Homo sapiens: one gene and its partners. The protein of the gene in region 1 purifies or fractionates together with the protein of each later gene. This does not show direct contact. Each region holds a gene or a part of one and is shown on either strand. Other genes may lie near its edges.

Region 1 (3,654 bases):
CAAAATCTCATTCTTGTCTGCTGCAAGAGTTCCCTGAGAAAATAAAAATAGATATTAAAAGCTCTGCATGTCTTCTTTCTCCCCTAGTGCTACTATCCATTCGACCCACAACCTAAATTTCCACAATCAAGAAGTGGAAGGATTTTATCAAACATCTTATAGTTATTAGTAAATTTTCATCTTAAGGGCAATTATGATCTTACTTAGATAAAATTCTCTCCTATACCAAACACTGGCTTCACAAGTCAAGACTGAAAGGGAGTGGGGAGAATTAATACTAACTGAATACATATTATGTATTTGGTCCAGTAAAACTTAGAAAGGTTATATAAATTCCCCAAGGTTAAAAGGTTGTCCTTATTCTTCTACGAAGAATTGAAATCTGAACTTGACTCTTCCAAACCTGGATATACCTACCAGTATGCCTTTTTTTTTTTTAGACAAAGTCTCACTCTGTTGCCCAGGTTGGAGTGCAGTGGTGCAATCTCAGCTCACTGCAACTGCCACCTCCCAGGTTCAAGCGATTCTCATGCCTCAGCCTCCTGAGTCGCTGGGATTACAGGTGTGTGCCAGCACACCCAGCTAATTTTTGTAGAGAAGCGGTCTCACCATGTTGGCCAGGCTGGTCTTGAACTCCTGACGTCAGGTGATCCACCTACCTTGGCCTCCTCAGAGTGCTGGGATTACATGCGTGAACCACCACACCAGGCCCCAGTTTTCCTATTATTGCTATATAAAAATCTCTATCATTACTATTATTAAAAATGACAACCATTTATTGAGCAAACATAATGTACCAGGCATTGTATTAGTAACTGTTACAGCTGGGCACAGTGGCATGCACCTGTAATCCCAGCTACTTGGGAGGCTGAGGTGGGCGGACTGCTGGAGCCCAGGAGTTCAAGACCAGCCTGGGGAAAATAGCAAGAACCCATCTCAAAAAATAAATAAATAGATAAAATAAAATACAAATAAAAGATCTGTTACAACACATTACCTCACTTCACAGTTAGTCATCCTACAAGTAGCACTGTTATAACAAAAACCAGTATTTATTAAGCACTTACAATGTGCTTCATACGATTCTGTGTTTTACGTGCATCATGCCATTTAATTCTCACCATAAACCTATGAGGTAGAAACTACTATTTTCTACATTTTACCTATAAAGAACTGAGGCAGAAAGGATAAAATTACACAGAAGCATGATGTGAGTAGTTATTATGACATTTATGAAAGTAACAAACTCAGCACGAACTCTTCCTATACACAGAGGTCATAAACCCAAGAAACTACAGGTGCCCAGCAGGGAAAATGGCAATGAGGGAAGAGGCGTGGTGGGACTGACAAAAATTCAGTGCTGGCCAGGTGTGGTGGCTCACTGGCTCACGCCTGTAATCCCAGCACTCTGGGAGGCCCAGGCAGGCAGATCACTTCAGGTCAGGAGTTCAAGACCAGCCTGGCCAACGGGGTGAAACCCTGTCTCTACTAAAAATACAAAAATTAGCTGGGTGTGGTGGCATGCACCTGTAATCCCAGCTACTTGGGAGGCTGAGGCACGAGAATCGCTTGAGCACAGGAGGTGGAGGTTGCAATCAGCTGAGATCACACCACTGTACTGCAGCCTGGGCAACAGAGTGAAACTGTGTCTCAAAAAAAAAAAAAAAAGTCAGTGCTGAAGACGGCAGTCATACACAGTCATACACGGCTTCAGGCAAGTGTTAGCACGTGGGAATGCAGAGCCAGTGCCGTCAATTCCATTTTCCACTAAGAACACAAAGGCTCAGGGAGAAGCAGTAATTCATCCAGGATTACAGACCAAGCAGGCAGCAGAGCTGCTCCTATTATGATTTTTATATCCTTTCAAAACAAAGCTGTACAGGGATCTTAAAAGAAAGAAATGTAAATTTAACAAAAAAAAAGTTATGGGAGAGCCTACAGCGAACTGTCCCCAGTTAAGTATTAATGTAGTAAGATCTTTATACCTGTAATCTCCCTTGGGCTTGTACTGGTGTTAGTCCAGATTGTTGTATAAGTGCCCAGAAAACTGTATTATAAAGATTATTGATGTGACCTGTGAGGAGAACAAAATAGTAATGTTTATATACATAAAATCTTTATTGAATATTCATTCTTCAAGGAATACTAGAGCCCTGACCCTCTCCTCTTTCATAGTAAAGAGATCTCAGAGACATTCAGTGACTTGACCGAAGTCCTACACACGGAACATGGAGGGAAGGAGCAGTAGGGAAAAAACTTCATCCCTAACAACAGTTTTATTTGGTCATTTCAGTTACACATTATACAAATCTGTTAACTTGTGTGTTAATCCTAGGAATACTTTAGAAGTTATTTGATTTATATTATTTCAATCTCTTTTCCAGTTCTTCTGGAAAATTCAAACTAGAACAAGCAAGTAAAAGCCTCACAAACATCATCACAGTCACATAAGGCAAGGGTCACAATTCAAATACCCACTGAGGCCAGCATGAACATAAATGTGTAAAGCAGTGGGTGACCCCAGAGGAACAACAGGGAATGGCAGAGACTATGGCACACTGGCATTTGTGTGTGTGTGTGTGTGTAAAGGTAGCTGCCACTGAACAGGCTTTGTCTAGTACTAAGTAAGAATGCAGATCCAGTATTGCCACATCTGATTTTTTTAAAAAATAGAGATAAGGCGGCTGGGCGTGGTGGCTCACGCCTATAATCCCAGCACTTTGGGAGGCCAAGGCGGGTGGATCACCTGAGGTCAGGAGTTCAAGACCAGCCTGACCAACATGGAGAAACCCCATTTCTACTAAAAAATACAGAATCAGCCGGGCGTGGTGGCACATGCCTGTAATCCCAGCTACTCGGGAGGCTGAGGCAGAAGAATCCCATGAACCCAGGAGGTGGAGGTTGCAGTGAGCCAAGATGACACCACTGCATTCCAGCCTGGGCAACAAGAGCGAAACTCTGTCTTAAAAAAAAAAAAAAATAGAGATAAGGAGTTTTTACGTAAAATTTAATTTTTCAAATACTTTTAACTAATTGAAAAAATATTTAAATACTGCATTCTGTACAACGTATATGTTGAAACAAAGTATATGTGAGCCAATCCTGTATCAGATCAACACCTGTAAGACATGGAATTGGTGGTTTAACTACATGTGTTTATTTGGTGCCACTCACAATCTGCTTGTCGCCAGCTGAGGTAGTCCTTTAAAGTCTGGTTGCTGGGATACACCACGACTCTTCCGTCAAAGCCTGGGGGATACAGAAGGGGCTGGTCCTCAAAGTAATCCCGCCAATAAAACACATAGCTGGAGGCAAACTGGGAGGCCACGTGAGTCATGAACTTACTTGAAAATGTAACGCACATTGGGTGGAGTAAGAAAAAGAAAAATACACGGAATTAGTTCAACACCATGATAAGACCTGTGGGTACCACAGAGAGTACACAAACTGCCCAGAAAGCCAGGAGATAAAATGCATTTGGCTAAGAAACACTATTTTAATACCTTGGTTCTGTATTTTTTTTTCTTTTTTTAGGACAGAGTCTTGCTCTGTTGCCTGGGCTGGAGTGCAATGGCACCATCTTGGCTCACTGCAACTTCTGCCTCCTGGGTTCAAGTGATTCTCCTGCCTCAGACTCCCGAGTAGCTGGGATTA
Region 2 (3,654 bases), on another chromosome or scaffold:
GAAACTGGAAATGTTTTTAAGGAACTGAGAGGAGGGTCGTGTGAGCGTTGGCACAGTGTCTGAACTCCTTTCAGCTTTGTTGAGCCTAAGGCTTCCATAAGCAATTTCAGAAATCTAAGTCTTACTACCAGTAAGGCTGATAAAACAAGGATGTGGTTAATCTCATAGTGTCCTATCCTTCTTCCAGAGCATTTTATTACTCTTCTGTGGAAGAGGCAAAGTTGGCAGTTCTATCAGAGCTAAATTCAGATTCTAACATGGAAAACATTAACAAAGTTGGCAAGAGACACAAAAGCATCCTACCACTTTCTCAACATGCTTTGTGGGAAAAATATCTTCCTTTGCCATCATTCTCTTAAACAGATTAAAATGCAAGTTCTTTTGAGGTAAAGATCTCAACTTTCCTTAAACTGAATTCTAAGAAGAACCATCTACGATAGATACTTCATGTGCCTAGGACTGCGCCCAACATATAAATGAGAAACAAGCTGGTGTTTGAATTAGCTATAATTATACTCATTTTTTACACATCAAATGTGCACAGACCTAAGCCTTGAACTGCAGAACTTTGCCACAGATGGACCAGATCCTAACATAAACAGGTATACAAACCAAAACATGGAACAGTGGGGACCATGTAACACTAACATAGCCACACAAGAAAATCCAGAACAGCTATTTTAAATAATGAGGTAGAAAAATATCAAGTAAAATGGAAATATGTTCCCAGTACACTGCTAAGAAAAAAATATTACCATAAAAGCATCTAGAGTATAGTTCTATTTTTGTAAAAAATGTATGTATATGTACCTATGCATGCATATTCATTTTGCAAAAAGAAATAAAAACTCCCATCACTTAAAGGTTATAACAAAATCTCAAGTGTTTAACTTTGGGTGGTAGGATTACAAGTGATTTTTATTTTCTTCCTTTGCTTACCAGAATTTTGTAAATTTTCTAGAACTAATATGTTACTTGGTACAAGAAAAATTAATTTTACATTTTACAATAAATTTAAAGAAACCTAAGTTCAGAATACGGAAGCACCCTAGGCATGGTCTGTTTACCCTTCCTTGCCCTAGCTACACCACCATCTCTGCAACTCTCTGTAGAAATCTTCAGTGATCCAAATATATGATTCGATATTTGCTTCTATTCCACCATGAAGGTCTACTAACTGTAGGTGAGTAATACATTCAAAGATAGGAAAAATCCATCTATTAGAACACTTGTCTCTCTACCTGGGCATAACGTAAGAGCTTCTCAGTGGCCTCAGGGTCTTTATTCCAGATGAGATCTTCACAGAGCTGCAGAAGTTCCTTATGGATATCATCATACACAGGGAGGTTTCCAGCATTCACTATCCCCATGTCCATGCCAGACTAAGGGCAATACAAATAAAAATGAGAATTTACAGTGATACCTTAAGTCAGCGATCAGCAAACTTTTCTCTGTAAAGGGCCAGAGAGAAATATTTTAGGCCATAGCCTCTGTCACAGCTACTCAACTTTGTAGTTACAGCATAAAAGCAGCCACAGACAAGATACAAATGAATAGGTGTGGCTCTATCCCAATAAAATCTTATTTACAGAAACTGGCAGCAGGCCGGACTTAGCCTGCATGCCACACTTTGAAAACCCCTGCCCCAACTAAAAACTGGTTTCCGCAGGGCTAAGAGTTCTTCTACCATACCTTGATTGCATGGTAAAGGAAAACCCCATGCATTGCTTCTCGAATGGCTTCCATTCCTCGGAAGGAGAAGGACAAGTTGGAAAGACCTCCACTTATTCTGGCTCCAGGTAATGTTTCCTGGCAAAAATTTTAAAATATGAAAAGATTCCCCTTTTTTGCCAAAAACAGCAATCACATCTCTTAAGCTTTATATAGGAGTGGAAAGAAAAAAAAACAAAAAGCATCCGAAGTTCAAAGTAATTCAGAGCTTCTTGTTACTAGACATAGACCAAAGCTTGCCGTATTACAGTATTACAAAGGCGCTGCTTCGTAAGTAGTTTTTCCTACTAGACTCCAATCTCCCTAAGGAGAACACGCGCGTACACACACACACACACACACGCAGAAAGACAAAGAGGAATTCCTTATTCACTGAAAGTACAAATTACTAGAAGGCTTCCATAGCCTAAATGAACAGACTCCCTAGTTCACTATGAACTTGACCGACTATAAAAGGACAAAAGGAAATTGAAGTTCCAACCATACCGATGACAGTATCAAGCATCATCAGGCTTGTGGAATAACAGGAACTTTCACTATTATTGGCTCAAGAATCTAGGGAGACAGTTTGTCATTATCTACTACTATGAGCCAACCACTTCTGGGTCTATGCTACAGAGAAGTTCAGGCATGCATGTCTAAGATACATATATAAGAATACTCAGAGCTGCATTGTTCATAATGTCCAAAAGCTGGAAAAAAACTAGATGTCCATCAACAATAGAACAGTTAATTGTGGTATAGTTATACCATAGAATATTATACATTAATAAAAATGAACAAACAGCTACAGCCACACAGATAAATCTTTAGTATGGAGTAAGAAAAAAACATAAAAATATTACGATTCTATTTTTATTAGGCTCAAAAGCAGGCAAAACCAAACTATATCATTCAGATATTCAGTCAATTCTTACTATTTTGTGGTAGTTATGTTCTTTAAAGTCACTGCAAACACTGAATTAGGGAATACCAGAGCATTGCTCCTAGGAGAAATACAGGGCTAGGTTCCTATGAGCCTCTGATGACATTTTTGTCAACCAATCAATACATAACCTTGTTTTGTGCATGTATGTTAAGATGCTGTATCTAATATTTACTGTTGATTCATTAAGACTGAATTCACAGCCAATGGCACTATAATTCATGTCTGAACAAAGCTTATCTAACACACATATTTCCTCCCTAAGGAACATCACAGCCTTCTTGTGCTTAGAACACTAGACAGCACTAGTATGGGGCCATTTTAAAAAGTGACCTCACCAACAAAACGCATAAAAGTGTGAAAAACATGGCATTAGACTGCAAAAAGGACATCTGTGTACAGGATGAGAGCTGAAATAAGAAGGTAGGTCACTGCCATGTTTGCCCTCTTTGGGAATAATATGGGTTGGGCCACTCAAATTTTCCACCACTCTGCATATGGGTAAGTCTGAACAACTGCAGAAGTGACGTTGAGTATTGATTTTGGGGTCACAAATAAATTTCAGTAAGTACATGAATTTGCAAATATAAAATCCATAGATGATGCAAATCAAATCTACATATATAAGCAATAAATTTATGAAGAAAAGCAACAGAGTAGCGTCATAAAACTCAGGACAATAGCTACTTTATAAAATTGAGAATGAGGTGTAACTGGAAAAGGAGAGACAGACGGGGGCGCTAGCTATGCTCTATTTTGGGACCTAAGTGAAGGCTCTTATATGCTTCATAATTAATTATTTATCAGGTTCTGTGGTTTTTTTGTTTTGCATCATTTTGTTCAAGGCAGGGCCTCACTCTGTCGCCCAGGCTAGAGCGCACTGGCGTGATCCCAGCTCAATGCAACCTCCACCCTCCTGGGTTCAAGCGAGTTCATCAGGCTCTGTTATGTTCTCCAGTCTGTTTGTTACACAAGTTAAAACTCTACTAAAGAAAAAA
Region 3 (3,654 bases), on another chromosome or scaffold:
GGACATAGAGTGGAATGCTTTCTCCAGCTCTGGGCTGTGGAATGTGGTCAGTGCTTTAGGGGATACTGGCAGGTCCTCTGAGCCTCTGTTCCAGATGCCCTTTCTTGGAGGCCTTAGGTTTAATCCCTGACTGATTTTTTATTTTTTAAGACAATATATCAGCTCCTAAACAGGCATGTTTAGGAGCTGTGGATGAAGGGGTTTCAGGGTTAGAGGGAACAACAGGAAGAGCCCTTTAATTCCCAGAGGGTGTGTGCGTGACATGAGTATCCCTATTAATGTCCCTAGCAATCAGCCAAGACCATCTTGAGAGGAACAGAGGAAAAATGTGGGAGCCCCCAAGTAAGGACCCTCTCTGGGAGCCGGCCACCCCTGCTCCGTCCCCTTTCAGAGAACTCTGGAGACGAGAACATGAGCGACGTGACCTTCGACTCTCTCCCTTCTTCCCCATCTTCGGCCACACCACACAGCCAGAAGCTAGACCACCTCCGTGAGTGACGGTTCGGTCCCTAGTCACTGTGATTGGAGGGGACAGGTGGAGCAGAGCTAAACCAGCTTTCATTTATGTTAGAAAAATCAGACATGCTAATCGAAAAGGTTCATGGCCCCAGTGGTTTTATAGGTGAGTTTCATTGAGTGAACTTTCAAAACAGATCATCCAAATGCTATAAAAACAACCCCTATTGTAGGAAACAAAGTAACTTTTATCAGTGTGTTTTATGAAACCAGCAAAACCTATATAATAAATTTGACAAACTAAAAAAGAAAATTATATCCCAACCTTATTTAAAATTTGTATTTGTGTATAGAGAACAAAAAAAAAATCTAAATAGATATTAACAAATAAAAATAGTACTATGTTAAAAGGTTCACCTGTCACAGTTAAATAGGGATTTCACAGGAATCTGAGGGTTGTTCAATGTTAGAAAAGCTATGAATGTGATATTAATGGGTCAAAGGAGAAAAACAGAATCATTATTTCTGACACTGAAAGAGTGGAGTTTGCTGATGATTCAGATGAGAGTCTGTAGGAAAGGATAGAGGCAAGACTGACCCCAGGGTATTGGCCTAAAGAGCTGGAGGTCATGTATTCAGGGAAAGTGTGAGCGGGAGCAGGCTCAGAGCAGGAGAGCAAGATTTTATTGTTTAGTTTTTTAATTTTTCTCATTTTGATACCTTTGAAAGAGAGAAAGATTTTAGTGTCAAACATTAAAGAAGCCCTTTAGATGTTTCCACTGGAAGGTCTTTGGAATAGTCTGGAACAGGAGTCAACAGACTTTTTTAAAAGGTCAGAGAGTAAATATTTTAAGCTTTGCAGGTCATTCAGTCTCTGCATTTGGAGCATGAAAGCTACCATAGAAAATATTAAGTGAGTGGATGTGGCTGTGTTCCAATAAAACTCTATGGATGGTGAAATTTAATTTTTGTCATCCATTTAAAAATGTAAACACTGTTCTTACAAACTATAAAAACAGACAGATAGATTTGGCTGTAGAGGGCAGGAGACAGAGATAGGGAACCACCAGGAGATGGTTGGTGTTTTTTTTTTGTTTGTTTTGTTTTGAGACGGAATCTCTCTCTCTGTCACCCCGGCTGGAATGCGGTGGCGTGATCTTGGCTCATTGCAATCTCTACCTCCTGGGTTCAAGCGATTCTCCTGCCTCAGCCTCCCAAGTAGCTGGGATTACAGGTGCATGCCACCATACCCAGCTAATTTTTGTATTTTTAATAGAGATGGGGTTTCACTATGTTGGCCAGATTGGTCTTGAACTCCTGACCTCAGGTGATCCACCTGCCTCGGCCTCCCATAGTTCTGGGATTACAGGCATAAGACACCGTGCCCAGCTGAAGATGGTTTTGAAGCTATCTGAGGCCCACTTCTTGAGCCCCAAATGTATAAACGTCTGTTCTTCCTTCACAACTGCATTTTATTGAGGACCAAGTGGTGGCCAGGCACATATGCTAATAAACACATTACAAGGATAATTGCATTGTGACAACCCTGAGGACACACATAGGTGACACCACTTGGCCAGAATCATGTAGCTGGCAAACAGCAGACTTAGAATAAGTTCTCAAGGAAGAACTTTAGCCTCCAGGTGCTGATAACATTCTTCTCCTTTTTTGTGCCTTTCTTTAAAGCTTAAAAAAAAAAAAAGGCTTGGTGGCAGGTATGGACCGCCCTAGGCCGTGGGTTGGTCTTATGCATGTTCCAGTAGTGGAACCAGGACATGATGTCTGTTTCTCCCTGCCCAGATTGGCCAGTGTTCAGTGACCTCGATAACATGGCATCCAGAGACCATGATCATCTAGACAACCACCGGGTGAGTGTGAAGGGAGGGAGGCTGCAGGCTTCAGACCCCAGCAGGGGTAGGAGTGGATTCACTCCCAGAGTGAATCTTCAGCTTCGGAGGTGGGCAGCCTAGCCCAGGCACTGCCAGGAGGGCACAGAATGGGGGAATTAGGGAGGATGCAGATGAATGTCAGCCTCCAGTCCAAGGCTGAGCTTTCCTCTGAGAAAAGGTGGGTCCCTTGCAGTTCCCAGAGATGGTTAGGGAAGAGGGACTCCCAGTCAGCAACAATGCGATCTTGTAGTAAATGCCAGTCTCAGCTCCAGGTTTGGTTTGACCCCACATGTGTTGGTTGTCCTATAGAGCCCTAATACTGGGTCTTAGATGTGTAACACATAGCACAGTAAGCCATGTGTTCTAGCTCTTCACACCTAGCTCTCCAGTTAGATAAACAGAACATTTCCTGAAGCTTTGGGTTGACTTGGTGGTAAGAAACTGAAGGCATCTTATCTGCATTCTCACAAATGTATATTATGGCAAATTATAATACTCTCTATGCTTGTGTGTGTGTTTGAAATATTTCTTAGTAAAATTGGCCAGGCATGGTAGCTCATGCCTATAATCCCAGCACTTTGGGAGACCAAGGTGGGCAGATCACTTGAGCCCAAGAATTTGAAACTAGCCTGGGCAATATGACAAGACCCCCATCTCTACAAAAAAATACAAAAGTTAGCCAGGCATGGTGGCACATACCTGTAGTCCCAGCTACTCAGGAGGCTGAGGTAGGAGGATCTCTTGAGCCTGGGAGGCAGAGGCTGCAGTAAGCCATCATCACACCACTGCACTCCAGCCTGGGTGACAGCGAGATCTTGTCTCAAAAAAAAAGAAAAAACAAATACCTTTTAGTAGAGGCTGGGCGCAGTGGCTCACGCCTGTAATCCCAGCACTTTGGCAGGCCAAGGGGGGCAGATCACTTGAGGTCAGGAATTTGAAGACCAGCCTGACCAACATGCCAAAACCCCATGTCTACTAAAAATACAAAAATTAGCCGAGTATGGTGGCAGTTTCCTGTAATCCCAGCTACTCAGGAGGCTGAGGCACGAGAATTTCTTGAACCCAGGAGGCGGAGGTTGCAGTGAGCAGAGGTCGCACCACTGCACTCCAACCTGGGCGACAGAGCGAGACTCAGTCTCAAAAAAAAAAAAAAAGAAATACTTCTTAGTAGAGGCGGGGTGTGGTGGCTCACACCTGTAATCCCAGCACTATGGGAGGCTGAGGCAGGCAGACCACTTGAGGCCAGGAGTTTAAGACCAGTCTGGCCAACATGATGAAACCTCATCCCTACAAAAAATATAAAAATTAG

What was found.
Region 2: the proteins of THG1L (region 1) and MTR fractionate together in Homo sapiens (co-fractionation; one large-scale study listed by BioGRID). This does not show direct contact.
Region 3: the proteins of THG1L (region 1) and EEF2K fractionate together in Homo sapiens (co-fractionation; one large-scale study listed by BioGRID). This does not show direct contact.

What each region holds. Positions count from the first base shown.
Region 1 is NC_000005.10:157,734,266-157,737,919, reverse strand, and holds part of THG1L (probable tRNA(His) guanylyltransferase), read right to left. Parts: intron 3,345-3,654; coding exon 3,175-3,344; intron 2,075-3,174; coding exon 1,986-2,074; intron 34-1,985; coding exon 1-33. UniProt on the Homo sapiens protein: Adds a GMP to the 5'-end of tRNA(His) after transcription and RNase P cleavage. This step is essential for proper recognition of the tRNA and for the fidelity of protein synthesis.
Region 2 is NC_000001.11:236,850,676-236,854,329, reverse strand, and holds part of MTR (methionine synthase), read right to left. Parts: intron 1,810-3,654; coding exon 1,693-1,809; intron 1,383-1,692; coding exon 1,242-1,382; intron 1-1,241. UniProt on the Homo sapiens protein: Catalyzes the transfer of a methyl group from methylcob(III)alamin (MeCbl) to homocysteine, yielding enzyme-bound cob(I)alamin and methionine in the cytosol. MeCbl is an active form of cobalamin (vitamin B12) used as a cofactor for methionine biosynthesis.
Region 3 is NC_000016.10:22,258,206-22,261,859, forward strand, and holds part of EEF2K (eukaryotic elongation factor 2 kinase), read left to right. Parts: intron 1-288; coding exon 289-490; intron 491-2,256; coding exon 2,257-2,324; intron 2,325-3,654. UniProt on the Homo sapiens protein: Threonine kinase that regulates protein synthesis by controlling the rate of peptide chain elongation.